Regions from separate parts of the Homo sapiens genome. Here all the other regions are linked to region 1. The links come from fine-mapping of genetic effects on gene expression. A gene starts in region 1. Each other region holds a variant in brackets. All regions are shown on one strand. Distances are between the middles of the regions.

Region 1 (10,480 bases):
CCCAATGGATTTCAGAATTATCAGGTGGTTTGGTATTCATGTGTTTGCCTAAAAATTGCAGTAGTGTTAGAATTAATTAATTAAAATCAGCATGCGATCACCATGCTAATCAATCAAAATTATAACCACATGGGAATTAAAAATTTGAAGTTTGCCTCCAACCAGAAAACCATGCCTATATTTTCATTTTCCCTTAATTTTGAGTAGCATCTGTTGGTCTCCTGAGCAACACAGGCCGCAGCAGTTCCTAATGGGAGAAAAGGCAAAGTAGAAATGTATCTGGCAGAAAAGAAATTTTAAGGAGAAAAAAAACAAGTTAAAGGAAAAGAAAAAAAAAATGAGCAAAAAAGGCTCAGACCGAAAGTTAGCAAGTGGTCATGAGTAACTCTACAAGTGCAATGAGCTATATGCATAAGAGGCACAAACTGAATGCTCATTGGTTTGCCCTGCTCTGCTACTGTCTGGGTGATTGTGTTAATGAGACCAATAAACTGCCCTGAATGATTAAAAACTGTCACTTCAGAGATTTCAAGCTTTTAAAAATAACCTGCTAAGGAAAAGTCCAGTATTTAAAGTAATGCTATGAATTAAAGCATCCGCAGCATAGGTTGAACGCATTTATCATTCAGGATGGCAAATAACTGTGTTTATTCAACACAAAATGTTAGCAAAACAGCGCCTCCCCCACAAGAGCAATCTGAAGAGTGCTGGGCTTCCCACGAGCAGCAAGGCACTGCTACCTAATTCCTGATAAGTGAATACACCTATTCAGTTATTTAAAAGTCCACCGATTTTCACATTGATGAAAAGTCATAATTATAAAAATGGCTTAAAGCACCAACCTTTTACTTTGCTGACTCTGTCCTGTGGAAAGAGATATCAACTTTATATATTAAGGCTGCCCTCTCAATAAATAGTTGATAATGTAAAAAACAGATTGTGCATTCCAAGATGTGCGTGTTTGGTAAGTGCTCCATGAGGCGTCCAAGGTAAATGTCAATTCTGTTCCAGCGTTACTGGCAGAGACACACATTACCTGTATTTCCGTTGTGTATTTATCATCATGATTCTGGAAAATGTAACTGGAACCCTTCATTCCCGTGAACATTGGTTCCCCGAATGCAGGTCTAAATAGAATGAAAAACCCAGCTCCTATCCAATTCTCCCTGAGGAGGATGAAATGAGAATCAGCCAGTTTAATGCCTTTGATTGTGATTGTTAGAGGTGTGGAGACTGAGTTTAACAGCCTAGGTTCCCGGACCTACTAGAATGCTTCTCACTGAATCCCAAAATACAGCGGTAATGAAACTATGCCTCCCCAAAAGAACCAAACAAAGTCCATTCTTCGGGGAAAATGAAGCAAGATAAAGGCAGCTGAATACTGACTGGCATGGATATATCAAATCAGAAACTTAATTAAAAGTTGAAGTGAACGGAAACCCCTGCAGTATCTGCCAGCTTAGCAAGGCAGCACACAGGCATACAGCGGCGCACCAGCACCATCCCTCCAGGGGCCTGCTATTCTCTCACAGCATCTAAAACCCCTCAAGATGAACTCCAGCGCCCACAGACAAGTCCCACAATCTTCCATTCTGTACTGAAAACAGACAAATTTCCTAAAAGATGGCTTACTGCGTTTTATAAAATCAAAACTATCCTATTTCTAAGGACCTAACAGGTTGCTATTCCTGTGCTCAGTAAAGACAGAAGAAAAAAATATAGGGGCTATCTGGCATTGAATACCTAATATATTATAATAGGCTAAAGCGGCAAAACCCATGGTATTAAACATAGAAACAACTGATAAAATACTCTTATTTCTGAAGCCATAACAAGGTACATTGCTAAATGTTTGTGTTTACATTGATGAAGTCAGTAACAATACTGCTACCTCAAATTATATCACCTAATAAAAACATGTTACCAAAATGGCAGTTTTCCCAGTCACTAAACACCTTAAAATAGATGCATGGCCAATTATTATTTAACTTATATTCATAATAACTACTTTGTAAAGTGTATGTTTTAGTGCAAAAATGACTAAACTTCCATTCTAAAAATGAACACACTATATTGATTCACAACATGAAGTGTCAATTAGTGAAACTACATAAAATACATAAAATTATATGGTGGTATACAGCACACCTTACTTAACTGAAAATCAAGTTTAAAAATCCATGCCTTAAAAAGAGCAATTACACTCTATTATACAACATAGTATTGTCATCTTTGAGTCCCCTTAATACAGTGTTAATGCATTTTCCAGCCAAATTTTCTAACTCATTTTGAAAGCATCTTAATTGTTAAGGACACAGTGATATGATGGCAGGGTGCACAGAGCTCTGACTTAGAGGAGTAATTCCTCATGCAAATGGACAGAAACTTGAAAATTAGCAAAAGAGAAGCAATTATCCACTTGTTTTTCCAAATGATGTTATGTCTCCTACACTCTGAGCACTCAGATCTACTCCCATTCATACTCTGAACTCTCTAAACCAATGTTCTTTGCTAATTTTAAAAATACAAAAGCATTTGCGGGGATAGTGGACCAAAACAGCCAAAACATAGCTGAAAAATGCTCCCCAAGTTGTCTAACATGCTCCCCCACCACTTATGAAAGTCTCTGCCAAGTAACCCAAAGCCGTGAGTATTTCAGGACCCCCAGAGCAGACGATTCCAAACCAAGGACTAGGGTGGACACCCACCCTGGAACGCAATGCCAAGCAACACCTCACCTTTCCCTCGCATCAGATTACAAAATGCCAGGCAGCAGCAAGAAATGATAACAAAGCCATAAACAGCTGGAAATAATTACACAATTGTCAAGCTGCAAACATGACAAAAGCAAAGCAAAGCTAGTGAATTCAATATCAGAAAGGATGCTGATGAGAAGGTAAGAGAAGCATTTCAGCCTTTTCCAATTTGCTGTTATAGAGTAGCAAATAATAAGGTTGACGGAGTTTTGTGCAGTGTGTGTGTGTGTGTGTGTGTGTGTGTGTGTAACTTCAAAGAGAAAGAAAAAAACATATTTAATGTGTTCCTAGAAAATGTGGGATAAAAGATATGAAAGCACAACCAAAAAATATTAACAGGCTCTGAAGGGATTCTTTTAGAGTTGCTACAACTACAACGTGCAGATGAGAAATACTTCTTTAAAGTTATACAAAATGTTATCTTCTTTAAAAGCATAAGAAAAATATAAAGGCAATGCTACAGTCCAGAATTCATCACATCAAACATCTGACAAGTGGGCAAAATGCCAAAGCAGGAGACAGATTGGTCCAGATTAAAAGAATACTAGGGAAAGAGGCAATTCCTATGCAATTCCTTTAAGTGCCGAGGTGGGCCACAGGTATGTAAATTCTCATCTTCCACGAGGGCATTTCGTAGCCTCAACTGTTTACCAACTGCCTATAATTCAAGAACACCTTCCCAAACAACAGAGTTGAGCAAGCAATCTTTCAATGAATAAGGTTTCAATGAATAAGGCTATTGGCGATTTTTAAACCATAATAACTTTTGTCATTCCATGGTGGGCCAACGCTTTATTACGATATTTGGATTTCATGTGGCAAACTGTTTCATATACTGTCCCCAAAAATGCTACTCTCTGAAGGGGAATGCCATAAATAAAATACGTACTTGGTTACCAGGCAGCATGCATAACACATATGGTACATTGGCCCAAAAATCATATTTTAAAATGTTTAAAAGTTAACTTAACAATTTAAGCTGTTTGTACCCATTTTCAGAGAATTATTCCCTAAAGGCCAATTTTATTTTCTATCATCAAGAGAATACTTTGATTAATCCTGTTGATCTGCTAACTTGAAATTCTTTGAACCCCTCTAATCTCTCCTCCCAGACCCATTTTTTTTTCTTTATTTCCTGAAGGGGAGAACGAAGGACCATTTATCTCACAATGTAATTTTAAGCTTATGCTTAAAATGCTGCCTATTTGAATTAAAATTGATGCAGCTTGTGATAAGAACCTAATAATCAATTCTCCATTCTCATTACTCTCCAGAATTACATGGATGCAGACCCATTTCTTAAGTTTGTGGACTACTCTCATAGGTTATTACCCGGCAGTGCAGCTGAGTGGAAAGATAACCACATTCATTCTCCTTATCTGCAATGATGTAATGCATCCTAGCCCTGGGTCTAGATGATTGGGGAATAATGGGATTGTACAACTGCAGGGATGACAAACAATAGTGCAGCGTCTTTCTCTGATACACTGAACCCCACGCCTCCAACGCAAGGTGAAAGGCATCACAAAATAGGCACTGAGTCTGCCCCTTGGATGAAGTTAGCATTTTTTGGCCCGAGGAGCATCTGCTCTGGCACTGAAACAGCAATACCGACACGGAGACGAGAGCCATGCAAAAACACTCAGTTTCCGAGCCCCAGCCAGGACAGTGCGAGTGAGTATCCTGCTTTTCTTTGTGGTTAGAATCAAGTGTCATCTAAAAATAACCGGTTGGTAGGAAGAAGTCACTGCATAGTACAATGCCAAGAAACCCGGGGATCAGAGAGTCCTCCGATAACTGATGCTGCTCGGGGCTCACGTTTGTTTGGAAAACTAAATCTGCCTCCATTTTCTGTGCCGGAAAAATCATCGCTTCCTGCCACCACAGAAACCTTACCTTTTGCAGAAGCTGGGAACCGGAGTACTTAGCAGCAATGGATTTTATCTCCCCACCAAAAGCCGAGGCCCAGAGCTTCACCCTACAGGGAGAAGGGGCACAGGAAGATATGTAACACCCGTGTCACAGTCAACACGCACGCACACGCACACGCACACATGGGACTATGGCTGAAGGAGCAGTGCGATGTAACATGTTTTAAAAGAAGAAAAGATAGAAAAAGCGGCTTGGTAGAAACTGCCAGCACCAAAACTGCAAAGCGCAGCGCGGGAGGGGGCCCGAGGGGGGTCGCGGAGTTAAGAATGCGCAAAGTCTCCCAGGCTCTCTAAAAAGACCACTGAGTTTCATTCGAACCACTGCCCGAGGACTCGACCCCCCAAACTGGGCATCACCTGGCAAATAGCAGTCAGAAGAAATCCACCCATCCCCCCCCCAAAAAAAGAAGTGGGGCGGCAGTAGAGCAAAGAGGGGGGAAATTCAGCGGCCCATGGAAGTTGGATTCGGTAACCAGGCTCCAAAGTTGGTGCCGTCACTTGAGGTGAGCCTCTCCAGATCTCACTCGGCAACCTGCGGGCAGGGGCCAGAGCATCCCACCCCGGCCTCGCCGCCCGACGCGGGTCCCGAAAGGCAGGTGCGAGCGGCGAGGCCGACGCCCGCGGCGGGTCCTGCCCAGCCGCACCTGCAGGCGCCCAAACTTGGGCACAGTGGGTCGCAGGCGGCAAGGTCCCCTCCCCGGGCGGCGCAGGAGCCGGCACTTACACGGAGAGCGGTATCTGCTGCTCCGAGCGCACCACGTCCCCCAGCGCGGCGTAGAGAAGCGCGGCAGCGAGAAGCGCCGAGGCCCCCCGGGACGCGCGGCGCGGCGAGCCCGGCCCGGCCATGCTGGGCTCCCTCCGACGCGCCCGCTGCGGCGGCGACGAGAGCGGCCGCGGGGAGCTGCGCGGAGCGGGCGGTGGGCGAGCGCGCGGGGCTGCCTGCTCCGCTCCGCGCCGCCCCGCCTGCCTCTCGCGCGCCCGGCTCACTTGGGGAGCAGAAAAAGGAGCGGGTGGGGGGGGCGGGGAGGGCGGAGAGGAGAGGGAGGGAGGAGAGGTGGGGAGGGAGGGAGGAGAGGTGGGGAGGGAGGCGGGCGGGGGAGGAGGCAGCGAGACGCGCCTCTAGCAGCAGCAGCCGCCCGGCCCCGCCTCGGCGGCCCCGGGGAGTCCGGCGGGCCGCGGCGGGAGGGCGGCGGGGCAGGAGGCGCCGCGCGGGCGGGGACTCGGAAACTCCAGTGTCCTTGGCCGCGGCGGAGCGCGCCCTGCCCCACCCGGGCTACTGCGGCCGCTGAGTTCTTTACAACTCCGCAGTCCGCCACCGCGGGCGCGACTCTGGGGCTGGCCCCGGGCCGGGCGACCCTAGCCAGGGTGGGGGTTGGGGGCGCGGGAGGGAAGCCGAGGGCAGGGCGCGGCGCTCCGCACTTTGCGGGCGGCTGCTAGGAGAGGGCGTAGCATGCCCGCTCCGCCCCTGGGCCGGGCGGGGTCGGGGGCCGCGGAACCTAAAGGGGGCGCGCCCTCCGCCCCCGCCGCGCGATTCTCCTGCGGGGAGGGAGCTGGGGAAGAAGCAGAAATCTCAGAAAGGAGCACAGGCTCGCGGCGGCAGGCGGGATCGCACGCGGGGCGGATCGGGCTGGGGATGGGACTGGGTGGGAGCTCGGGGCTCTGGCTAGGGCAGCGCTGCGTGACCGCCCGCAGCTGCTCCTCCGGCCGCGGCGCCCGACAGGGGAAAGCACGGAGGGCGGTGCTGCCACCACGGCTTGGGCGCACCAGCGCGGGGCTCCCGGCATCCGGCCGCAGCGCAGCGGCCCCCTGCGCGCCCGACCCAGGCCCCGGGGCTCCCCAGCGGCCGCTGCCTTCGGAGTCCGCCCGGCTGCGGTGACTGGTGGGGACCGGGATGTCAGGGTTGAGCGAGGAAGCCAACGCGGCGCCGAGTCGATCCTGACCGGGGGACACCCTGGATTTCGGGATAAAAGATTTCTCCGAGCCTGGGGGATTGCCTGCTCCCCACTCCGGCGCCCACCGCACTGGGCAGGAGGCAGTGAGCGCCGGAGGAGGCGCCTTCTCGCCGCCCTCAGGGGCGAGGAGAAAGGAAGCCGGAGAAGCCCCTGCGCGTTCTGGGAACCAGGCTTCTCCCCGCCTCTCTCGCCGCTGCCCCCACCCCGGGACCCAGCTTGCAGAACCCCTCTCCCCCGTGCGAGGTATGGGGTGTGATTGGGAACTTTGTGGAGCCCTCGCGCAGGCTGGCGGTAAAGACCGACCGGAGTGAGGCTGAGTCATCCTTGCCCGGCCAAGCGCAACTCCGGTGACCCCAGCAAGGAGTGCGCTCCTAACGTCGCCGGGGCTCCCGGCGCACCAGACACCTGGGTTCATATTTGCATGCCTTTCTGCAACCAGGGCTTTGCTTTCTGCCCCGTCACCCGCCCTTGGCCTCAGCATCCTCAGGTTGCAGGGAAGTAAGGGCGGGCTCCAGCTTCCGCCAGGTGGTGTCCGGCTAGGAGCCAGGCCGGCTCTCCTTTCCAGTAGTCCCTGGAAAAAGTTACCCCTGCAGATGTTGGGCTTGATCTCAGAGTTGGCAGCGAGGGAGAAGGACTGCTACCGAGAGGCTCTTAGTGCTTTTCCCGAGTGCGGGCAGACCCGAGCTCCCCTGGGCTCTGGCAGGTCGCGCTCCCACCTTGGGGGGCAACGCAAGGAACAGGCCCCTCTCCAGGAGCGCCAGGTGCGCCCCGCCCGCGGGCAGTGTCTACAGCCTCTACGGATGACTAACCGGTTATAATGAATTCTCCGCTTCTGTGCATACCCTCCGCCTGAGGAAGCGTGCCAGCCCTTTCCAAACCGAGCCAAGCGCGGCCTGACCCCCGAGGCAAGGGGTCCCAGGAGTTGACCCTCAAATTGGGGGTTAGAAGAAAATGTGTTTTCCTATCAGAACGCGGGATCGTTCTTCCTAAATGAAAGCATAGTGAATGAACCAGTGAGTGAGTGCATGCTAGCTCTTAGTAAGACCATCCGTTTCCCACATGGTATCTATATGATGACGCCCTTCATGCCTTCACTCATTCATGTAGTCAATAACTGTCAATCAGCCTCTATTGATAGGTACAGTAGGACATGCTGGGAAGCCAGTAGTGAACAAAGCAGGCTCTCTGCCCTCACCGAGTTTATACACTACGAAGAGGACAGGCTTTACTGCAAAAACCATAATGGTAAATGCACAATTATACACTTTGACAAGGGAAAAACAATACTGTGTATGAAGAAAAAGTACCTGTGACACCCATACTATTGTTGTGCCTATTAACTGATGAGAACATCGAGGCACGGCAAAGTCATACAGCTTAAGTCATATTTAAGCAACTGCTTGACTGCTGGACTATACTGAAGACCACCTGGGCACCAAGGTCATGAAGACATTTCGTAATAAAGTCACTATGCGTTGCCAGCCTGACACAGGTGAATTTCGCAGTTGTCTCGGGCAACTAGAGAGTAGCGATGAGAGGCCAGGCACAGGAAGTCACAGTCCCAGGAGGAGAGTGTTTTGAGCATTTGTAACGCAGGCCATCTTAGGCAGAACATTATGCACGTTACATTTAAGATGGATCCCGCTAACCATATCCTAGTATCTCAAAAATAAAAAATATTTAAACTAATACTAATAAACTCAGAACTCAAAGTGTCCAAAGATTTGGGGTCTTACCACTTACACACTGTAATATTCTTTCCAGAATCACAAAAATCAGTGCTGAAAGGGATCTGTAAGCAATCTAGTCTTGCAGTCTTATTTTAACAGAGAGGAAACTTGAGGCCCAGAAGGATTTAGCCACTTGTCCAAAGGCACACACCCCTTAAAGAGAATCTCCTCACTTTGAACCAGGGAGTTCCTGCAGCTACATGAGAATAAGGGACCAGGAGCACCTTCCAGTAAGCCAAATGCAGTACCAGGGCATTGGGCACTACTTGCCATTTTCACCCAAAAGCTTATATTTCAACACCCAACTCTCAGTTGAAGCATGGAATCCAGAGAAATAAAACTTTCATTGGTAGACCTATGCACTCCATCCCACCTAGCTGAGGATGTCGCACTTTGTCCTGCAACAGTGAGGAGCTGCTGGAGGTGTTTGAACAGAAGTGAAAGATGATGACACAGAAGTGAATGTTTTAGGAGCATTCACCTGATCCAGCATATGGAAGGGATTCTGGAGGAGCCCCTAGAGCAGTGGTTCTCAGTGCGCAAGAGGGCATTGCCCTTGGGGGCATTTTGAACAGCTGGGACTTTTTTTTTTTTTTTTGAGACGGAGTCTTGCTTTGTTGCCCAGGCTGAAGTGCAGTGGCACAATCTCGGCTCACTGCAACCTCCACCTCCCAGGTTCAAGTGACTCTCATGCCTCAGCCTCCCAGGTAGCTGGGATTACAGGGGCCTGCCACCATGCCTGGCTAATTTTTCTATTTTTAGTAGAGACAGGGTTTCACCATGTTGGCCAGGCTGGTCTTGAACTCCTGATCTCAAGTGATGTGCCTGCCTCAGCCTCCCAAAGTGCTGGGATTACAGGTGTGAGCCACTATGCCTGGGCTAGTTGGGATTTTTTCTGTTTGTCATGACTTGGGGTCCTACTGGCATTTAGTTGATAGGGGCAGAACAGGCCCATGCAAGGACTTTCAAGTACCCCACTGAACATTCAGGTAAGAGAAAAACCCCACTTATAAGCATCTGAATCTAGCATTAAAAGCCATTTTGTACATAAATTAAGAGGAGTTTTTGCATGGCTTTAATAAACACCATATTTTCCAGGAATGCAATTACAATATAAATAAAGGCATGGTTGTCTTCTGTTTTGTTCAGAACCTTACCAAGAAGTTGTTTGGTTGCTTGAGGTTTGTTTGATTTGTTGTTGTTGTTTTTCATTTTGGAAAATCTCCAACAGCAACTGTGCTCACAGATCCTGAGTTACCAACACACACACCTGTATCAGTCTGCATTTGGGGTGTGGCATTCACAGTTAGTCTGCACATAAGCACAAACAGCTAATAATGTCATTAGATCTTGTAGTTACATCTTGTGCGAGCATTTCATTTAAATACTTCTTATTTTATTATAAATTACTTTTATTTTACTTCTCTTTGCTGTTGCCAAATAAGGCATCATACTGTCTTTTTAAAATTCTGACTTTGATTAGGTTATATTGTCTCAGAATTTCATGTCAGGATAGTAAAGGAGGTGTTGAGTCTATCTGGGTAAATATCTACTGTGAAAGGAATACCAGCTAAAAGGCTGAGATGTTGCTGATGAGGAAGCAAAATGGTTCACTCAAAAGGAGGAAAATGGCAAATGCTTTCACATTTAACCCAGCAATTCCTCTTCTGGAAATTTATCTTACAGTTACTGTATTAGTCTGTTCTCATGCTGCCATGAAGAAATGCCCAAGACTGGTTAATTCGTAAAGAAAAGAGGTTTAATTGATTCACAGTTCCACATGTCTGGGGAGACCTCAGGAAACTTAGAATCATAGCAGAAGGCACCTCTTCACAGGGCAGCAGGAGAGAGAATGTGTGCAAGCAGGGGAAATGCCAGATGCTTATAAAACCATCAGATCTTGTGGGATTCACTCATTATCACGAGAACTGCATGGGGGAACCACCCCCATAATCTAATTACCTCCACCTGGTCCTGTCCTTGACAGGTGGGGATTATTATAATTCAAAGTGAGATTTGGGTGGGGACATAAGAGCCAAACCATATTATTCTGCCCCTGGCCCCTCCAAAATCGCATGTCTTCACATTTCAAAATGCAGTCATGCCTTTCC
Region 2 (10,480 bases), 24 kb after region 1:
ACAGGGTCTTCCTCTATGTGCAAAGCAGAGACTTTCCCCAACTACAAGGCAGCAGTCCACCAAAGGCTGGTGTCAGGGCAGATAACTCTGAGAAATACCTTTAAAGCAGCGGCCCCCAACATTTTTGGCACCAGGGACCGGTTTCACGGAAGACAATTTTTTCACGGACCTGTGGGTGGTGGAGTGGTTTTGGGATGAATCTTTTCCACCTCAGATCATCAGGCATTAGTTCGATTTTCATAAGGAGCACATAACCTAGATCCCTCGCATGTGCAGTTCACAATAGGCCTCACACTCCTACGAGAATCTAACGCCACCGCCGATCTGACAGGAGGTGGAGCTCAGGCGGTAATACTCTCTCGCCTGCCACTCACCTCCTGCTGTGTGGCCTGGTTCCTAACAGGCCATGGACTGGGACTAGTCCATGGCCTGGGGGTTGGAGACCCCTACTTTAAAGGACTCCAGGCCTTCATCATGAAAACTTTAGCTACTCTCCTAAGTCTAAAGGTAGGGTAGAAGTTCTGAGAGAGCTGAGAGAAATCCCTATGAAGCCTATAGACATTAAAAGAATGGTAATTGGGCTGAGCACAGTGGCTCACGCCTGTAATCACAGCACTTTGGGAGGCCAAGGCAGGCAGATCACTAGGTCAGGAGTTCGAGGCCAGCCTGGCCAACATAGTGAAACCCTGTCTCTACTAAAAATAAAAAAAAAAAAAGCCCGGCCTGGTGGCGGGTGCCTGTAATCCTAGCTACTTGGGAGGCTGAGGCAGGAGAATCACTTGAACCTGGGAGGTGGAGGTTGCAGTGATCTGAGATCATGCCACTGCACTCCAGCCTGGACGACAGTGTGAGACTCTGTCTCAAAAAAAACAAAAACAAAAAAAAAAAAAAACGGTAAGTGGATATTATGAAAAACTTTATGCCACCAAATTTGACAATGTAAATTAAATGGACAAATTCCTTGAAAAACACAACTTCGGCCAGGCGCGGTAGCTCACACCTGTAATCCCAGCACTTTGGTAGGCCAAGGCAGGCAGATCACAAGGTCAGGAGCTCGAGACCAGCCTGACCAACATGGTGAAACCCCGTCTCTACTAAAAATACAAAAATTAGCCGGCTGTGGTGGTGTGCGCCTGTAATCCCAGCTACTCAAGAGGCTGAGGCAGGATAATCGCTTGAACCCGGGAGGCAGAGGTTGCAGTGAGCCGAGATTGCGCCACTGCACTCCATCCTAGGCAACAGAGTGAGACTCTGTCTCAAAAAAAAAAAAAAAGAAAGAAAGAAAAACACAACTTCATACAAAATAGAAACAAGAAGAAAAAGAAAATATAAAAACCCTGTATCTATAAAATACATTAAATTTTAATAAAACAAATAAAAACCTCTAGGTTCATGTAGCTTCGCAGTAAATGCTATAAAGATTCAAGAAATAAATAATTATAGACACAAACACTTTAAGAAAATAGAGGAGGAAGAAACAATTCCAGCCTCATTTGATGAGACCAGCATAACTCTGATACAAAAACCTGACAAGATCATTAAAATAAAAAAAATTACAGATAAATATCCCTTATGAACACAAATGCAAAAACCCTGAACAAAATATTAGCAAGTTGAATCAGCAATATATAAAAAATGGTAATATGATCAAGAGTGATTTTATCTTTTGAAAAATAATAGAAACATAAATTGTTTCATCCTGTGAAAAATCAATGTAATTCACCACATTAACAGAATAAAGGAGAGAGGGAAAAAAAAGTGCACTCCTCTTAATATATGCAAAATAAAATCGAAAAATTCAATGCAAATTTAAGATTTTTAAAAATAGCTTAAAACTAGGAATAGAAGCGAACTTCCTCAGTTTGATAAAGATCATCTGCCAAAAGCACCTACAGATAGCATCATATTAATGGTGAAACACTGAATAATTTCCCCCTACAACTGGGAATAAGGCAATATGCCCACTTGTATTTAACTCTGGACTGGAAATCTTAACTAGTTCAATATGGCAAGGAAAAGATTGGAAAGGAAGAAATATAATTTTCATTATTTGCTGACATGATTATGTACATAGAAAATCATGATGACATGATTGTGTACATAGAAAAACTCTGCAGAATCTACAAAAAAAATGTATATTTTAAAAAATCTACTAGAACTAATAAGTGAACTTAGCGAGGTCACAGATACAAAGTCAATATATAAAAAGCAACTGAACTTCTATATATTTGTAACAAACAAAGTGTATTAGTCCGTTCTCACATTGCTATAAAAAGCTACCTGAGGCCGGGCCTGGTGGCTCATGCCTGTAATCCCAGCACTTTGGGCGGCCGAGGCGGGCGGATCACGAGGTCAGGAGATCGAGACCATCTTGGCTAACATGGTGAAACCCTGTCTCTACTAAAAATACAAAAAATTAGCCGGGCGTGGTGGCATGCGCATGTAGTCCCAGCTACTCGGGAGGCTGAGGCAGGAGAATGGCGTGAACCCGAGAAGTGGAGCTTTCAGTGAGCCGAGATGGCGCCACTGCACTCCAGCCTGGACGACAGAGCGAGATTCCGTCTCAAAAAAAAGAAAAGGTACCTGAAACTGGGTAATTTATAAAGAAAAGAGATTTAATTGACTCACAGTTCTGCAGGATACACAGGAAACATGGCTGGGAAGGCCTCAAGAAACTTAGAATCATGGCAGAGGGCAAAGGGCAAGCAGACATGTGTTATACGGCCAGAGAAGGCAGAGAATAGCAAAAGGAGAGGTGCTACACACTTTTAAATAACCAGATCTCATGAGAATTCACTCACTATCATGAGAACAGCATGGGGGAAATAGACCCCCACGATCCAATCACCTCCCGCCCAACCCATCCTCCAACACTGAGGATTACAATTCAACATGAGATTTGGACATAGATACAAATCCAAATCATATTAAAAAGTGAAATTTAAAAATAGCGTAATATTAGCAACAGACACCAAACAGGTAGGAATAAATCTAAGATGTACAAAACTTTTATACTGAAAACAACAAAACATTCTTGGGATAAATTAAGTAAGTCCTAATAAATAGAGATATATCATCAATATTGTTAAGATGTCCATTTTCCCAATTTAATTCAACATAAGCCCAAGCAAAATCCCAGGAGTCATTTTTGTGTAAGTTGACAAGGTGATTCTAAAATGCATAGGGAAATATAAAGAACCTAGAGTAGACAAAATGATCTTGAAAAAGAACAAAGTTGGAAGACACATGATTCAACTCTAAAACATATTATAATGCTACAATCATCAAGATAATGTATTGATTTAGGCATAGACATAAAGATAAATAAAATGAATGGAGATCCCAGAAACAGACCCATACTTACCTGGTCAATTGATTTTGAACAAAGAGTCCAAGGTAATTCAACGAAGAAAGAATAATCTTTGTACAATTGTATATCTGTATAAAAAAAAATGAACCTCAACCCTTGCATGAGACTGTCCACAGAAAGTAAATGAAATGGATTATAGATATTAGCTTAAAAGCTGAAGCTATAAAACTTTTAGAAGAAAACATGAGAGAAATATCTTCATCACCCTAGTATAGGCAAAGATTTCTCAGACTAGATATGATAAAAACTAACCAAAAAAAAGATACTGATAATTTGCACTTTATCAAAATTAAAAACATCTGTTCTTTGAAAAACACTGTAAGAAAATAAAAATAAAACAATATTTAATAAAAGACTTGTATCTAGAACATATTAAGAACTCCTACAACTCAATAGTAAGAAAATACACGATTTACAAATGGACAAAAGATTGAACAAACACTTCACAAATGAAAATCTATGGCAAAAAAACAAAAGTGCATGAAATGATTCTCATCATCATTACTTAAGAGGAAAATATGAATTTAAATCCACAATGAGTTATCACTACACACCCCTAGAATAGTTAAAATTAAAAAGCTGGACAATACCAAGTGTTGTGAGGATGTGGAGCAATTAGAACTCTCATGTACCACCAATGGGAGTGTAAAAGAGTACAACCATCTTGAGGAACACTAGAGCAATTTCTTATACTCATATACCTACCCTATAATCCAGAAATTCCTAGGTATTTACTCAGGAAAAATGAAAACACATGCCTACAAGTTATACACAAATGCTCCTAGTCCCTAACTGAAGACAATCCAACTGTCCATTAACAAGTCTTTGGATAAACATATAGTGGTATATTCATGTAATAGAATACTATTCAGCACTGAAAATGAACTGTTAACACATGAATGAATCCAACAAACAACATGAATGAATCTCAAAAACATTATGCTTGAATGAAAGAAGCAGGGTACAAAACAGTATATACTATAATGATTCTAAAATATGTGAAGTCCAGAAACAAACAAAAACTAATGGTGGCAAATTAGAAAATGCTTGCCCAGTTGAGAGGCATTGGGTAACTGACTAGAAAGGGCACTTTCTGGGGTTATACAAATGTTCCAAATTTTGGTTTAGGTGGTTTTTGCACAAGTGAATACCCCTGCCAAAATTGTAAAAACTGAATACTTTAGACATGTGCATTTTATTATGTGAAAATTATGCCTTGATTTTTTAAAGTTATGATTAGATTTATCTCTATATATTTGTGCCCAGCAATAATAATATCATTTTCAAGAGGTGCTGATCGATTCCTTTGCATTGTGATAATTGTCTTATTATAACTATCTGTAATTATATGAAGCCTTCATAAATGTGACCACGTGCAATAATAAAGTTGTAAAACACTTAAAATAGTAACTGGCAGACTGGGGAATATATTTGCAACTCAGCTCTCAAAGGGCTAATGACCCTCATATATAAGAGATCTTAAAAATATATATTTAAAATACCATAAATTCAACATCCCTTCATAATAAAAACTCTCAACAAATTAGGAAGAAAGCAGTATGGCAGTTCCTCAAAAAATTAAAAATAACAGCAGGGCACAGTGGCATGGGCCTGTAATTCTAGCTACTCAGCCGGCTGAGGCAGGAGGACAGCTTGAGCCTAGGACAGCTAGTGCCTGTGAATAGCCACTGCACTCCAGCCTGGGTGACAGAGTAGGA[C/T]TATATCTCTAAGAAAAAAAAAAATTAAAAATAGAACTACCATATGATCCAGCAATCCCACTACAGGGTATACATCCAAAAGAAATGTAATCAGTATATTGAACAGGTATCTGAACTCCTTTGTTCATTGCAGCACTATTCACACTAGCTGATATATGGAATCTACTTAAATGTCCATCAACAGAAGCATAGATAAAGAAACTATGGTACGTTTATATACATATTATAGTTTACACACACACACACACACAATGGAATACTATTCAGCTATAATAACAAAATGAAATCCTGTCATTTGTGGCAACATGGATGAACCTGGAAAACATTTTTAAACTAAATAAGCTAGGCATAGAAAAATAAGTCCCACAAGGTCTCACTTATACGTGGAGTCTAAAAAGTTGTTCTTATAGAAGTGGAAAGCAGAATAGTGGTTAGCAGAGGATGGGGGGATGGGGAGAAGCCGGGGAAGGTGAGAGATTGGTCAGTGGGTACAAAGCTATAGCTACATAGGAGGAATAAGTTCTGGTGGTCTGTTGCATAGAAAGATCACTAGAGTTAACAACATTGTATTGTGCATTTCAAAATAGCTAGAAAAGAGGTTTTTGAATGTTCTTATCACAAAGAAATAATACATGTTTAAGACAACAGATGTTAAACTGTCATCATTACACAATTATACATGTATCAAAACATCACATTGTACCCCATAAATATGTACAATTATTATGTGTCAATCATAAATTAAAAAATAAAAATGAAAGTCATAGGACTGTTAAAAGAAAACATAAATTACCAAAGTAAAGACTGCTTTACTCTGGGAGTGGAGTGCTTTCATCACAAGTGGATTTCACTCTTAGGTGTAGCCACTTTTTCCTATTTCTGGTTTTATTTTCACATTTAATGGTGGTGTGAAAAAAGGGAACAAAGAAAGAAGGGAGAGAGGAGGAAAAAAGAGAGATGCACACCTATGCTCAAAGAAAGTACTGGACAGAACTATACAAACATATTAATAACAGGGTGGAATTATGGGCCTTTTTTTCTCCTAATGGATTATCTGTATTTTTTTTTACAATGGACACGTAACTTCTGCTCATTTATAGGAAATGCTATCATGCAAATGAGAACTATTTCTGGCGAAACTATTATATCTAGAAGTACTTTAAATAATTTTCATGAAGTTCAATTTATGAGTCAAAATTTTATTCCTTCAACAGGCAATGCTTTTATTATTCTTTTATACCCACCCACAGAACATGGGTGGGGATAAATGAATTAAGAAAGCTTCATGAACTTTTTACATATAAATGCTGCATCATTTTATATTCTAGTAGCTGATAATATTTTTTAAAGCTCATTTAAATCTACCTAACTTATATTTGGAGTTTTCTTCCACAGTTTTCATCAGACATTGTGCCCATATTGGTTCCTTAAAATAGATGTAGAAGCTGGGGAGGTGGTGCATGCCTGTAATCCCAGTTACTTCAGTGGCTAAGGCAGGAGGATTGCTTGAGCCCAGGAGTTCAAGTTCAGCCTGGACAACATAGCAAGGCTCTGCCTCTAAAAAATAAAAAATAAAAAAAAAACAAAAAGTAAACAGACGTAGTAAAGAAATCCACTGGCAATTTCTATGTCCTTCTCAAAAAGCCTTTGTATTATAAAATCTTCAAATGTGCATAGAAATAGAAGATTGTCTATTTAACTCTGTATAACCATCATGTAGACTTACATTTTGTCATATTTGCTTAGTCTTTAAAAAAAATACAGATTATAACATTTCATCCCTAAATACTTTAGCAAGCATTTCTAAAATATAAGGATATCTTATAGCCACAAAATCATTTTTACACCTAACAAAATTAACAACAATTTCTTAATATCACCTAATTCTTAGACCATATTCAAATTTCCCCCATTTCTGCCCAAAATGTATTTTATAGTTATTTGTTTGAACTAGGATCCATATAAAGTCCGACTGACCATTTCATTTCTAAAATCTAGTCTTTTTAAAATCTAGAATAGTTTCCATCATCACCACTACTTTTTTCTTTCTTCTTCTTCTTTTGCTTTTTAATGTTATTGACTTGTACTTGGTTAACTGTTTCATAAAGTGTTTCCTGGAAATTTAAAGAATGATTTGACAACACCGCCAGAGAACTCACTGTAAAAATAATCATCTCAAAAAAGAAAATCAGACTCATTTTTTAATATCAAAATCTTGCAAATCTCCATCTTGAACATCAATACTATAGTGTGGAGGGGCGGGGCAAGTAGGAATATTAGAAAAATTCCATAAAACTAGCATATTTTAAGAGCTAGGTACAGTGGCTCATGCCTGTAATCCCACCTCCTCTGGAGGCTGAGGCAAGAGAATCACTTGAACCCAGGAATTTGAGTCTGCAGCGAGCTATGATTATACCACTGCACTCCAGCCTGGGTGACAGAGGGTGACCCCGTTGAAAGAAACAAAAAACGAAAGAAAGAAAGAGAGAGAGAGAAAGAAAAAGAAAGAAAGAAAGAGAAAGAAAGAAAGAAAGAAGAGAAAGAAGGAAGGAAGGAAAGAGAGAGAGAAAGAAGGAAGGAAGAGAAAGAAGGAAGGAGAGAGAGAAAGAAGGAAGGAAGGAATGAAAGGGTAAAGGAAAGGAAGAAAAAAGAAAGAAAAAGGAAAGAAAGAAAGAGAGAGAAAGAAAGAAAGAAAGAAAGAAAGAAAGAAAGAAAGAAAGAAAGAAAGAAAGAAAGAAAGAAAGAAAGAAAGAAAGGAAGGCAGGCCCTGATTTTAGAAAGCCGCCTTCCCTTTGGAGCCTCTCAACCTGGAAGAGACATCACAATTTCCCTTCTGGCCTGGAGGAACAAAAGCTTAATGTAGCTTGCAGGAAGCCTGACTTCAGCTGGCTTTAACACCCCCAGGAGGAGTTAAAATGTGAAAGAACAGCACTTTGCCTTTTAGGAGGCTCATCTTATCACAGACAACAGAGGTAAGAGAAAACATTTTAAGCTAATGACATTTACTGCTAACCAGATCTGGTTGAAGCAATCCATTGGACTCCAGTTTGCAGGTCTCATTTGTTAGAAGATTCATTTAACTTAGAATGCTCAACCAAAAGCACCCCACCTTCACATTTCTCTGAGTATTATGCTAGACAATGAATTATTCTCCCAGCTGATTAACTATCTTTAACCCCCCAGGCTGCTACAATATTGTGTGTATGTTAATTCGACTGCATTGCAAATTATCTGACGTTGAACAACAATAATAAAAGAAAGAAATATTAAGCCTAATGGAAGGAATGTTGCTAGGGAGATTTTTATAAGATGGAACCAAGAAAGTCCTTCATGTATAGAAGGAAAATTTCTGAAATCATCCAACATGCAATAATTGAGCATCTGCCAACTGGGTCAGCTGCTGACCCATTTCTGTACTGGTCAGTGGGGTCTAGAAAGGGTGAGGCTTTCATTGGCAGGTTTGGGCCACATTCCCACTCCTAAGGTCAGAGGCGAAGTCAACTTCATCCAACTTAAATCTAAGAGTCATGAACAAAGCCTTCCCCATGGAAAAGCAAAAGCAGCTACCAGCAGAAGGGGGAATGAATCCTGGGCAGCAAAACCAATAGATAAATGGGTATCCATAGAGCCAGAGATAAGTGAAGTCAGAAATATCGAAAAGGGGCCATGAGTGTGTGTCCCCTCTGTCTATTAGAATGCTTGGGTCACTAATACTTTTTACTAGCTTTGGTCCTTCCCCAATGGTATCCCAGTCTCTCAGGTCTCTGGGTCCATTGGGTTTGTTGGCCTATTGGGGAAGCTTCCTAATATATTTCCTCTCTTGTGCGGGAAAGCCTTGTCTCCAACTAAATGCATTTTTCTAAAGCCCTTAATGGAATGACCTTAATGGAAAGAGTGTTTTAGTCCCAATCCCTGGAAACACATCATAGTTCAGCTATGTCAGCTGTTGAGTCCAGCCTTAGTGGGAGAAATCATGCATTTCTTGATTTTGTTCTTCTAGATGTCAAAAGGCAACATAAAAAACAGTCCTTTAATTTTTCAGTGAAAGATGAAATGAAGGCAGGGAGATTTCAAATCACTAAGCAGATTCACCTTTCTAGTAAAAAGAGATTCCTCTCAGGGCTTTCCTAGCCCAGCGAGGTTGCTTGGTCCTGCCTTGTGGTTCTTGCCTTCTCCTCCCCTCCTGCAAGCAGCTCAGAAACAGAGGGAAAACTTTGTAAATATGGGCACAAGACAACACCAATCTTCCTCTGGCCCTGCTAGAATCACTTATCAGAGCCTTCCGGAGAGGGACACGTGTGCTGAAAAAGATGCAAGGCAAATATTATGGATAATACTTAAAAAATAAAAGGGAAATGAGTCATGTTGGCAAGTGAATTTATGTTTATACAAAATATTTGTGGAAACATGCTTTCCACTTTGGAGATTCTCCTGATCCATCACCATGACACTAATGTTGCAAGAAGCAAATCCGTCAGACAGTGACCATTACTTTTTAATAGACCACTCCATTTTCAGCAATCATACTAACAAAATCAGGACATAGCCCAGTCTGCTTGCAGGAGATGAAAAATACTTGCAAACACTTCACAAATGCTCCCCTGCACAATGAGGAAGCTTGCTCACAGGTAGTCCAGATGCAGAACAGGACAGGAGTGTCCAGGGAACTCTGCTATGCGGATTCTTCTAGGGCCTGGCCAACATGTGTGTGGTGCCTACACACCCGGCGCCAAGTTTGTTTTTCAGAAAGCTGTTCTCATTTTGTACAGAAAGGCTCTGCTTGAGGGCTAGGTGTATGGCCTTTGCTTTCAGATTATATAAGATGTAAAAACACATGATCTGGATCACATAGGCCAAAGTATGATTTTTTTAAAGTGCTTACCAAAGACACGAAGAAAGAGCCTTAAAAATAAAAACCTATCTGATATATTTGTGACTACACCAGAACACAATTCATTCATTCACTCTTTTGACAATTACCTCCTAAATGGTGGGAACTGTGTGTGGTGTTATGAAATATGAATATTTATAAGTCACGGTCCCTGCTCTCAAATGAAAGGGAAAGACACAATTGGCCATGCTAAATATCAGAACTAATTAAGTACAAATAAGAAGCTATAGGAGCATAAAGGAATAAGTGATTTATGAAACTTCATGTGAATTGAGAAAAACTTCAGGGAGGAAATTTTTGGATGCTGACCTTGAAGGATAGCTAGCAATTATTCTTTTATGATGTTGATGATGATGACTTTCTTTTGTTGCCTTATTTAAAAAGCAATATATTCGTATCATAGAAAATATACATAAGCTCCCTACTTAAATATAACTACTATTGGTATTCCCAATTTTTTCTAGCAATATGCACTTTTTACAAAAATTCATTCATATTTCA
Region 3 (10,480 bases), 840 kb before region 1:
AAGATTACTGTCTCTGGCTTTAGTTATAAAATTGTTTAACCAACTATCCAACCATCTATCCAATCAATCGACCAACTACGTAACCAACCAACCAATGAGCCAACCAACTATTCAAGCTACTGCCCTAGCTGTGAGCCACCCGTCCAACCATCTGTACAATCAGCCAACTAACCAACTAACCATCCTCACTCCTCTTACTGTAAAACTGGGATTCATAATTATACCCACTGTGCAAGTGAAGAGCTTAACACAGGGCCTCGAGACACTGATTAATCACTACTACTATTGAGTTGTGTTGTTCTTGAGCTGAGCACTCCAATAAGACAATAAATGTCTCAAAGACATGGGAGAGGCTTGAGGCCCACTTGACTATCCTACAAAAATTATCCCTGAACTTGCTGAAAAGGGTGTGGACCATACAACTTCACAGGGTATTCTTTCCTAAGGGGAAATTAGTTTTGATCTGATGATCACAGAAACTTGGGCTTCTGCAGAAAACTTTGCTGACTGGCTTTTTTTTTTTTGATACTGTGACTCATACAATGATTATGATTTTCTAACCAGCAGCCAGATCCTCTGGGACCGAGCATTTTGTTTTAACTTCATCCTGGACTTCCTTTTATATTTCCTTACTTGTTTTTCCTTTGTCCACCTTTTTGAAATCTACTTCCTAATCTATGTTTTCTGGGTTGAAATTGTTTGGTTAGGATTTCTTAAGTCCTCATGATAAGCAGAAGGAATATAAATATGTGACTATTTATAAGGTCTAGTTTACATATTGACTGCTGTTTCACTGATGCAGAGAGAGAAAGGCTACCTCAGGAGAAGTGAAAAGGCCACCATGCTTCTGCCTGCTCCAAAACGTGGGGCAGAGGGTATGGGATGGCAAGGTATAAAAACATAAGGCAGATGGAAACACTTTGGGTAGTGGCATAGTTTCTTCTTCCATTGCGCATGTGTAGGATTAAAATCCCTCCTCCCAAAAGGCAGAGAGAGAGAAAAAGAGGAGAGGAGAGGAGAGCAGAGGAGAGGGGAGGGGAGAGGAGAGGAGGGGAGGGGAAGGGAGGAGAGGGGTGAGGAACGGAGGGGAGGAGAGGAGAAGAAAGGATAGGAGAGGAGGGGAGGGGAGAGGAGGGGAGGGGAGGGGAAGGGAGGAGAGGGGTGAGGAACGGAGGGGAGGAGAGGAGGGGAGGGGAGGGGAGGAGAGGAGGGAGACGGAGAGAGAGAGAGAGAACAGAAGAGGAGAAAGAAAAGAAAAAAGAAAAGATTTGTAGGAGAGAAGCAGTATGCTACAAAGAAACATTTTGAGTTTCAAAGTTTTTAACTCCTAGGTTTTTTGTTTGCTTATTACATGAAATTAGCTGAATCACTTAATTTCTCTGATGCTCAGTTTTTCTTATCTGCAAGATGGGTCAACAAGTCCTACCTATTTCACCGGTTGTTGCAAGGATGGAAAGAGATTAAGGCATGTAGAAAAAGGTTTGAGAATTGTAATGTGAGCTTCAAACAGTAGGAGTTAGGAGTTTGTATTATTTCCTACAAAATGTCAAAATTCCAATAGTGCTATCCATGAGACATTTAAAGCACATTTCCAGCTGTCATAAACTGATGGGAGGTGGGGAACAAAAAAAAAGAAACAAAGCAAATAAAGCAAATGATTTTTTTTTTTTTAGATTGGCCCAGTACAATGCGTCAACCTGGCCTTGTTTATAAGGGCATTCCCTCGGTCATAAAGCACCATCTGTCACCTTCTATCCACAGGGGTAGAAACAGGACCAGGAGGCCGTCTTACCTCATCATCACAGCTGATGGAGCATTTGCCATCCAGGGAAGCACACTGTGAAGGCAAAAAGTGGAGGGAAATGTGTTACTATGTTACTTGGGCATCCCAGTGCCTGCTGTGGCTGCCACTGAGCTACTTAAGGACAAGCTATCCAAGTCATGGGCTAGAATTCAAATACCCAATTTCATTGAAAAGGAATGCTCCATGATGTGTCTTGTCTACTATCTCTGGAATCAGTATCAATTCCAAGTAGTAATGTAAAATAAAAGATCTATGAAACAACTGAGCGGGGTGGGGCAGGCACAGTGGCTCACACCTGTAATCCCTGCACTTTGGGAGGCCAAGGAGGGCAGATCACTTGAGGTCAGGAGTTCGAGACCAGCCTGGCCACATGGCGAAATCCCATCTCTACTAAAACATACAAAAATTACCCTAGTGTGGTGGCAGGCACCTGTAATCCCAGCTACTCAGGAGGCTGAGGCAGGAGAATCACTTGAACCAGGGAGGTGGAGGGTGCAGTGAGTCGAGATCGCACCACTGCACTCCAGCCTGGGAGACAGAGCAAGACTATCTCAAAAAAAAAAAAAAAAAGTCTACTTTATGTTGTCATTAAACAGTAATGATATCTTTTTAAGATCTCAAATCTTTTGGTAACTAAAAATACAATTATGTAATTAATTTAAAATTCATTAATTCTCAGTGACTTTAAAAAACCCCTGTCCATCTCCTTAGTTTATAGCTTCCTAAAGTATCTTAATTTAAAGGATGATAAGCCATTCTAACATTTATTCTTGGTCAGATGGAAGCAACTTATCAGTGGCCCTTTCTACCAAATTACTCAACAAATACCACTGAGATGACTTAGTACAGAGAGCATAGCGAAAAGAAAACAATGTTCCCAGATTCTCCAAGGTAGACCCTGTGAACAAAGAAGTCAGATACATGTTTTGGAGAAACTAGTTACGTAAAGGGTTTCTAGATTTTGATAATGAGATTCACAAGTAAGTAACCAGGCACGACCACAGGATTAGGAGAAAGTCAGAATGAAAATCTCACAAAAGGCCCCAATACTTAAAAGAAAAACTCCTTTGGAAGGTCACTATCTTGATCCCACAATTAAAACTGTTCCTAGGAGCAAATTCCCTGCTTTGCTCAGCATGTGGTGTCTAACATGCTGACAGCCCTTTATTTTGCAGTGAAATGAAAGGTAATCTGAGCAGCCGGCAGTTGATTTTACAAACATTCATCGGAAATCTGGCACTTTCAGGCTCCAGGTACCCAAATGGGAACACCTGTATAATAACAGTGTCGCTAATGCTTCAAGATGCTGATTATAACTTACCTGTCTGCTGGCAGTCCAGAACTTCCTTTGGAAAAATTCAAGTTTCATCTGAATGCCTACAGCTGGGACAAATTATAAATAAAACAAGGCATTAGTGATCCCTTTACACAATTATTTAAGATTATCGTTGAAAATTATCCGTCATGGCAAGAAGCTGATATAAGCATATAAAATAAAATGTACAGTGAAGCATACAACTAAAACATTTTATCTTTCAGGTAAAGAATTCTCAAGTTTACCTGCACTCACAGAACTCTCGATACAAAACAAACAGCACAGTGCAGATCGCTCTTTGGAGACATGTTACTTCGGCATTTCTAAAATTCATATGCTTGCACCACTGCCCCTACCCCCACCCCAACACAAGCTGAGAAGAGGAAAGAAAAAAAAAAATTCAAAAGATCACTATTGCTTCAGTTCCTGTCAGCTATTACTGTTTGAACTTGCATGTCTAAAATGTGTACTCTGCATGTGTTTTTGAGACGTAACATTTGAAAAGCACTTGTCATGAGGCTAGAATTCAGAAGTGAGTCACTTTACTATAATGTGTCTTAGTTTAACTGGCCTCCTAGAGTCCACATCTCAAGGTTCTTCTCTCCCATGGAACTCTGGTAAAATTATGTAATTTTTTCTTTGTCTGTGAAAAGCTTCCTAAAGCAACTGTGAATGCTAGTTCTAGTGACAGAAACAGCCAAAAAGAGAAGAGGTTAAGAATGTGACTTGAAACTTTGGGAAGTGAAATTTAGTGGAACCTCAAAACTATAACATGAGGAAGTTCACCTTATTTTTCTCCATGAAGCCCAAACCACTTGAAAGACCTGAAACCATCTCAGGAAGTAAAATGGTAAGGGCAAAATGCTCCTCAGATGGTGGGAAAACTTGAGAGGCGTTCAGAAGAATGAGACTACAGGGAATACTGAATTCCCTGGAGCACGTCATTTACCCCAGTGCAGTTTTGCAAACTGTAGTCTGTTGCACACAACCTCCCCATTTTTACCATATTTGCATACCACCAATACTCTTATTGTCCTTCCACATTTCTTTCTTTTGCTTAAAGACCTACAGTAATTCAACCTAAATAAAACTGGAACACCCATCAAAAGAAATACACAATTGTAAGAAAAAAAATCACTTAAATACTCTAAAAATTTTGCGTGCCACTATACTGGACCTCCCATTTGGGTAATCATTGTTGTGCTGGCTTCAGGAACTTGGAGATTCATAAAGGTCTTGGGCTGTTGTTACCCTGATAACTATCAAGGGCATTTCTACTTCCTAAAGAAATTGTTGAAGCCAGCCCTGAGAGTAAAGGTTAACTGGGTGTGTACATTGGGAGAGATTTGCCATCTGTGTTTGCACTTAGAATTTCCGACTCTAGGATAAAGACTAGAGCAGTGCACGGCTGCAACATGCAGAACGTGAAAAGCCTCTGAAATGCACCATGTCGGTGCCCAGGCTCATTCTGCTCTGCCTTAAGTGTCCTTCGTTCTCTGGACCACAGCCTTCCCAAGAATGAGGACCTGTTCTTGCTCCCTGCTGGACCCCTGCCTCCAGCAAGATGCTGAGTACACAGACGACCCATAGGTAAATGCTTGCTTTTTAAAAAAAACTTTCAAGTGATATTATAGTCAGCAGTTAGAGAGAAATATAGAAGAGTAACACCTATGCGAATCGTTTGTTTGTTTGTTTGTTTGAGACAGAATCTCACTCTGCTGTCCAGGCTGGAGTGCAGTGGTGTGATCTCAGCTCACTGCAACCTCTGCTTCCCGGGTTCAAGTGATTCTCATGCCTCAGCCTCCCGAGTAGCTGGGATTACAGGTGTGCACCACCACACCTGGCTAATTTTTGTATTTTCTGTAGAGGTGAAGTTTCACCATGTTAGCCAGGCTGATCTCTAACTCGTGGGCTCAAGTGACCTGCCTGCCTCAACCTCCCAAAGTGCTGGGATTACAGATGTGAGCCATGTGGCTGGCTTGGGTATGTTTTAAAAGTGTCCCAGATGATTCTCACGCACAGCCAAGGTGGGGGATGGCTTTAGTAAATCAGCTGTTGGGGACCTACTGTGATGTGGGCCACGTGGCCAGACTACACAACACAAAAGCTGTTCTTCCCAGCATTGGAGAACATTTCAGAGAATGCCTGAAAGAAGCTGATTTTGAGTCTGATGGTAGTTGACTGCATTTCAAATAAATCTCATCTTCCAAATGCCTGACAGGCCAGGGTGCAGGGTGCAAAACAGGGTCTGACTCCCTGAAAGAGTCACTCCAGGGTAGCCTTTCCATGGTGCTTCTCCCTCCAACAGCCCAGAGCTGTCCTGGGCCCACCTGTCATCTCTTGAGCTTCCATGAGTCTCCTGATGCCCTTTCTGAGACCCCCACCCCCGTTCTCTGATGGAGCCCTCATCTTCACCTCCCTGATGAAGCCAGCTGCTCCCCGCTGGGTGTTTATCCATCTCACATACTTGCAG[T/C]CTGTTCTCATCTGCCCCTGTCGGTCCTCTACCCCAGCTCCTTGGGGCGCTTTCATCTTTCCTCATGAGTCAGTCCCTCCATCCCATTAATCATGCAGGCTGCTTCTCTCTGATCTCCCTCCAGCAGGCTGCATCCTCGTCCTGGTCCTGATGCCCTGAACTAGAACTGCTTCCCTCTCTCCTCACTCACACCCCTGCCTGCACCATGAGGTTGTTGCCCAAAGGCTCCTGGATAGTCCTGGCTGCAATTGTTCTGCTAGTTTTGACCTAGCTGTGTTCCGGCTAGCTGACCTCATCCCCTTTCCAGTAACACTGGCCCCTGGCTTCCTGTGGCATATCTGGGGTTTGCAGTGTTTTCTTTTACCCATAAGTTAATATACTCTCCTATGATTAAGGGACTCACAATTTCATTGATGGATCAACTTCACGACCATTTGTTCAGTGAGTACTAAGCTCTACACTGGGTACTAAGCTCCCTCCACGTCCAGTTGAGGAGTAGATCCATTGTAAAAGCTACACTAGAGGCATAAAGAACTGGAGCGTGCAGAGAATGGGGCTGACTTGGCCTGGTGAGAGCTTTGTGTAAGGTGAGGCATGGAGAGCCCACTCACAGAACAGTAAGAAGCCAGGGAAGATGGCAATCCAAATGGAGGAAACAGTAAGGGAGGGGAAGGGAGAGAACCTTTTTAAAGACCATCATTTGTTTGGAGGCTTGAGAAGAATGGGAACGGGGACCCAGTTGTTCAGGCTGAGGTCAAATGGCAAAAGGTCTTGAATGTCAGGCCAAAGCTTCAAGAGTACGTAGGCCAGAGATTGGTCCAATGGTGAAATCCAGCCTCTTTTTGTAAATAAAGTTTTCTTGCAGCACAGCCACACTAATTGGTTTGCACACTGTCTATGACTCCAATAGCAGAGCTGAGTAGTTTTAACTGAGATTGCATGGCCCACAAAACCTCAGTTATTTACTATTGGTCCTTTACAGAAAAAGTATTCTGACATCTGCCGTTGGTGCCATTGAAGGTCTTTAGTATCGAAGTGGCAGGATCAGGTTTATATTTTTAGAAAGCCCACTCTGAAAGCTCGCAGAGGAAGTGCTAGGGAAAGGGCCTATAAAATGGGAAATGGGAGAATGAGAGTAAGGGATCGAGAGTAACGGGATTGAGCTCATTATTTCTTGAGCGTGAAAATGATTTAAAGTGCAAAAAACAAGGCAACAAAAAAAAAAATAAGAATAACCCTCTCCCCCAACAAACAAGCAAATAAACAAAAATGCTTAAGGGAATCCTATGGCCAACTCTATTCAGAAAAACAAATATCACCTGCCACAAGCCACAAACAGAAGTGTAGCTTCCTTTCACTATTTTCCTTAGTTTTGGTCCACATTTTTCTTTTCTTGACCTTTATCAGAGAAAACACGACTACTTCAGTGAGTCCCACTCTCTCCCTTCAGCCCCCACATAACCTAAATGGAACCTGAGACATTTGTCAAGCCCGTCTATTTTGTTCTTTCAGCAACATTTCAAGCAGTAACAGTATATTGATTTAAGTCAGTCTTGCTAATTTAATAAGGAAAACAAAGACAGCAAATGCTTTTGTGAAACTCAAGTCCCAAGGAGAGTTACAGAAAAAAAAAAATCACCATTCCTGGGGTTTGTAATGTTTTAGACAGTCCAGAAAATCATCAACATATTTCCCCGGAGGTCACAGTGCTCCTTACTTCAATTTGATTACAGATGTCCCAGGGCTCCCTCCCTGCTGGGAATCTTCATCACATGGATAGAGACAAAGTCCCTTTACACAACTGCATCTGGTGATATCTTACTCACCACCCAGGAACACAACCGATCCAGAAAATATTATCCCATAGGATCCTTCCCCATGTGCCAATATGGGGTGAGCCTCCTAGGACAGCGACCCCAAGATACTGGGATGGTCTTTGGAAACCAAGACAGCAAAATTATTGTTATAAGAATTGCCATCTCAAAGAGCCCAGAATCCTTTCATGTGAAATATTCAGGAATCTGAAGCACTGACCTCTCTTTTGAACTATCTGTGTGACTGTTCTCACAACTCCTCTCAATACTCTAAGAGGGCTTAACTACAGATATCGAAACTTCAACAAAGTATCTTCCTTCCAGACTTCCTCTTTTCCCAACTGTCTAACTTCCTTCTTATCTACTTTTACCCTCCCTTCCTCCATTCCTTTCTCCCATGTTTATCAGAAACCCAGTATGTGCTGGGTGATAGGTGTATTGAGAAAAAGATGTGAGAGACACAACCGCCAGGGGTACAGGCCTGGGGAGGGCAGTCAAATCACCGAAGAGAGATTCACACTTCAGCATCCCCAGAGCTGACAGAAACGAATGCAGGGCATCATCCAAAACACATAGACCATTTGCTTTGCAGAATACCAATGATCGGCATGCTTGAATCTAGGGACAGGCAGCTGACCTTGAATGCTCTGATCCTGTGCTGTCCAAATTAGTGGCCATTAGTTACATGTGGCTATTTAAATAAAAATTAACTAAAATTAAATAATATTCACAATTTAGTTCCTTAGTTGCACTAGTTAGATGTCAAGTGCTCCGTAGCCACAGGGTGCTAGAGGCTACGGTACTGGACCATGCAGATCTAGAATATTTCCATCATTGCAGAGACTTCTACTGGACGATGACCAGTGATCCCAGAAGGAACCATAGAAAAGAAATGGACCCTAGCACTCCTTAAGGATGGAAGGTACAATTCTCCACAAACCCGTCCATACTACCACTCCCCAGAGGTAGAAGAAATGAGATGACTTAGGTATAGGGGGTTTAGATCAGACAGGACTGCCAGCGTGAGACAACCTGGACTTGCAAGGGGAAGTTGGAAATGAGTTTGAATGAACCCTAAAGAAATCAATGCAACAACCACCCTCCAGATTTATTTATTTTGCTTTATAAAACTTGAGACTACAAATTACATTTGCAGTGCTATTATGTTTAAATGCATTCAAGATGAAATCATGCATGCATCTCATATCATGTTAATAGACATGCATTCAAGTGTAATCTGAAACTCACAAAATATAAAATTAGAAATAAAACATATAAAATTAGAAATAAAACAACTTTTCTCATATCGTATTCATTTAGAAATAATTTCCTGTGGGGTTGGCCTCAACTTGCAACATACTAGAGGGGCACAGATCTGGTTTGTAAAATAGTGCTCACTATGCCTGGCACACAAGCTCACCCAAACACCCCTACTTCCATTTGCCCAGCCCTCCAGTCATACAATATATTCACATACACATAGAGAGCTCATCCAAAAGGCAGAAAAACAATCCTGCCACCATCAGTGAATTCCAATCAGGAGTTGTTTTGCTGCGAGAACTGATTGCAAACCCGTTTTAAGACCACTGCTGTGTACCCTTGGGTATGTCACTTTACCTCTCTGTCTCCACCAATAGAGTTGCACCGGCTCTGGCTTCTGAACAGAATTTTTGTGGGACAAAAATCAGTGAGAGTAAATAAAATCACGGGTATTAAAATACTCTAACTAGTTGATAGTGTTGTCATCATTCATGTTATGACTTGCTCCTAGAGCTTTTATTCTTTATTCTTATGTTTCATGGCTAATATGCCTTTCATGCCAATTATGTTGAGAGTGAGCAGAAAATTCATCTATGACCAATGCAAACTGTCCACTCCTAGGAATGTTCCTTAGAGTGTTATATCAGTGAGCAAATGCATTACAAAATCATGCTATCAGCCAAGCAGGCTCTTAGAGAATTAATCTTTTTCCTTCAGGATTAAGGAAAGGTGTGCTCCACCATTCAAAACCTGTGCTATGGTTTGAATGTTGGTCCTCTCTGAAACTCATGTTAAAATTTGATCTCTAATGCAGCAGTATTAAGAGGTGGCACTTTTAAGAGGTGATTGGGTCCCGAGGACTCTGTCCTCATGAATGGATTAATCTATTAATAGATTAATGGGTTAATGGATTAATGAGTTATCATGAGAGTGGGACTGGTGGATTTACAGGAAGAGGGAGAGAGACCTGAGTGAGCACGCTCAGTCCCCTCACGATGCCATGCCCTGTGCCTCCCTGGGACTCTGCAGAGCCCCCACCAGCAAGTCCCTCACCACATGGGGCCCCTTGAACTTGGACTTCTCAGCCTCTGAGAAGAGGCTTTAAGAAGTGAATTCCTTTTCTTTACAAATTACCCGGCTTCTACCACTCTGTTAAAAGCAAAAGAAAACAGAAGATGTCCTGTCACCCACCCCTTCTGGAATTGTGATCATTCATGCATACTCAGGACAAGGTTAGACAGGTCAGGGTACAGAACCCAAGAAGACTGCTGTCCATGATACTGGTGCCATCAGCTTCCTGTGCACATCAATCAGGCCACCTGCCCACAAAACTTCTCAATGACCTGGCTACTGCTGGACAATTGCAAATGTGGACAATTACCATTTCATTGTGGTGTCCAGGCAGAGAAACAGATCCAAGAGCTGACTTGCACTGGCTTGTTCTACAAACAGAAGATTTTCTCCTAATAGATTCCAATCCATAGGTAGGAATATAGTAGAAAATTGTAGTTTTATTAGAGGGAATACAACTACAATAAGTTAATAATAAATAAATTACCTGCTAAGGATTTCCCATATATTTCATCTCTTAGGAGTAGAGTGACTTTTCCCAAAACCCAAATTGTACAGATAAATGCTCATCCAGATCATCAGCTTCCTTGCTGGTCATATTTCTTAATCAGGGCACTGGGTATTTTTACATGGCTTGGTTAATATCTCTTATCCAGTCTCACCTCCACTTTGACAGTCTCTGAATTTTTATTTCTTTGTGCACCATGGCAAAGATTGCTAGCAGTGATAGTAACAAGGCCTGG

What was found. PIP is the estimated chance that this variant, and not a neighbour inherited with it, causes the effect.
Region 2: its variant is the best candidate, but not a certain one, in a credible set for the expression of CACNA2D3 in skeletal muscle (GTEx, PIP 0.71).
Region 3: its variant is the best candidate, but not a certain one, in a credible set for the expression of CACNA2D3 in whole blood (INTERVAL, PIP 0.57).

The regions. Positions count from the first base shown.
Region 1 is chr3:54,117,767-54,128,246 of GRCh38, reverse strand. It overlaps CACNA2D3 (calcium voltage-gated channel auxiliary subunit alpha2delta 3), which reads right to left and starts at 5,695. Exons shown (of 38, transcript NM_018398.3): 1 at 5,412-5,695; 2 at 4,653-4,734. The coding sequence starts at 5,533. It overlaps LOC124909381 (a long non-coding RNA gene), which reads left to right and starts at 4,805. Exons shown (of 2, transcript XR_007095914.1): 1 at 4,805-5,190. RefSeq lists a silencer at 6,889-6,938.
Region 2 is chr3:54,094,132-54,104,611 of GRCh38, reverse strand. The region is part of intron 1 of LOC124909381 (a long non-coding RNA gene); the gene reads left to right. Among named protein-coding and RNA genes, the nearest start is that of CACNA2D3, 23 kb to the left of the region's middle. The variant C/T (reference allele first, on the strand shown) is at 5,089.
Region 3 is chr3:54,961,157-54,971,636 of GRCh38, reverse strand. It overlaps CACNA2D3 (calcium voltage-gated channel auxiliary subunit alpha2delta 3), which reads right to left. Exons shown (of 38, transcript NM_018398.3): 28 at 3,126-3,187; 29 at 1,793-1,837. It also overlaps a transcript of LRTM1 not described here. Among named protein-coding and RNA genes, the nearest start is that of LRTM1, 38 kb to the right of the region's middle. The variant T/C (reference allele first, on the strand shown) is at 5,593.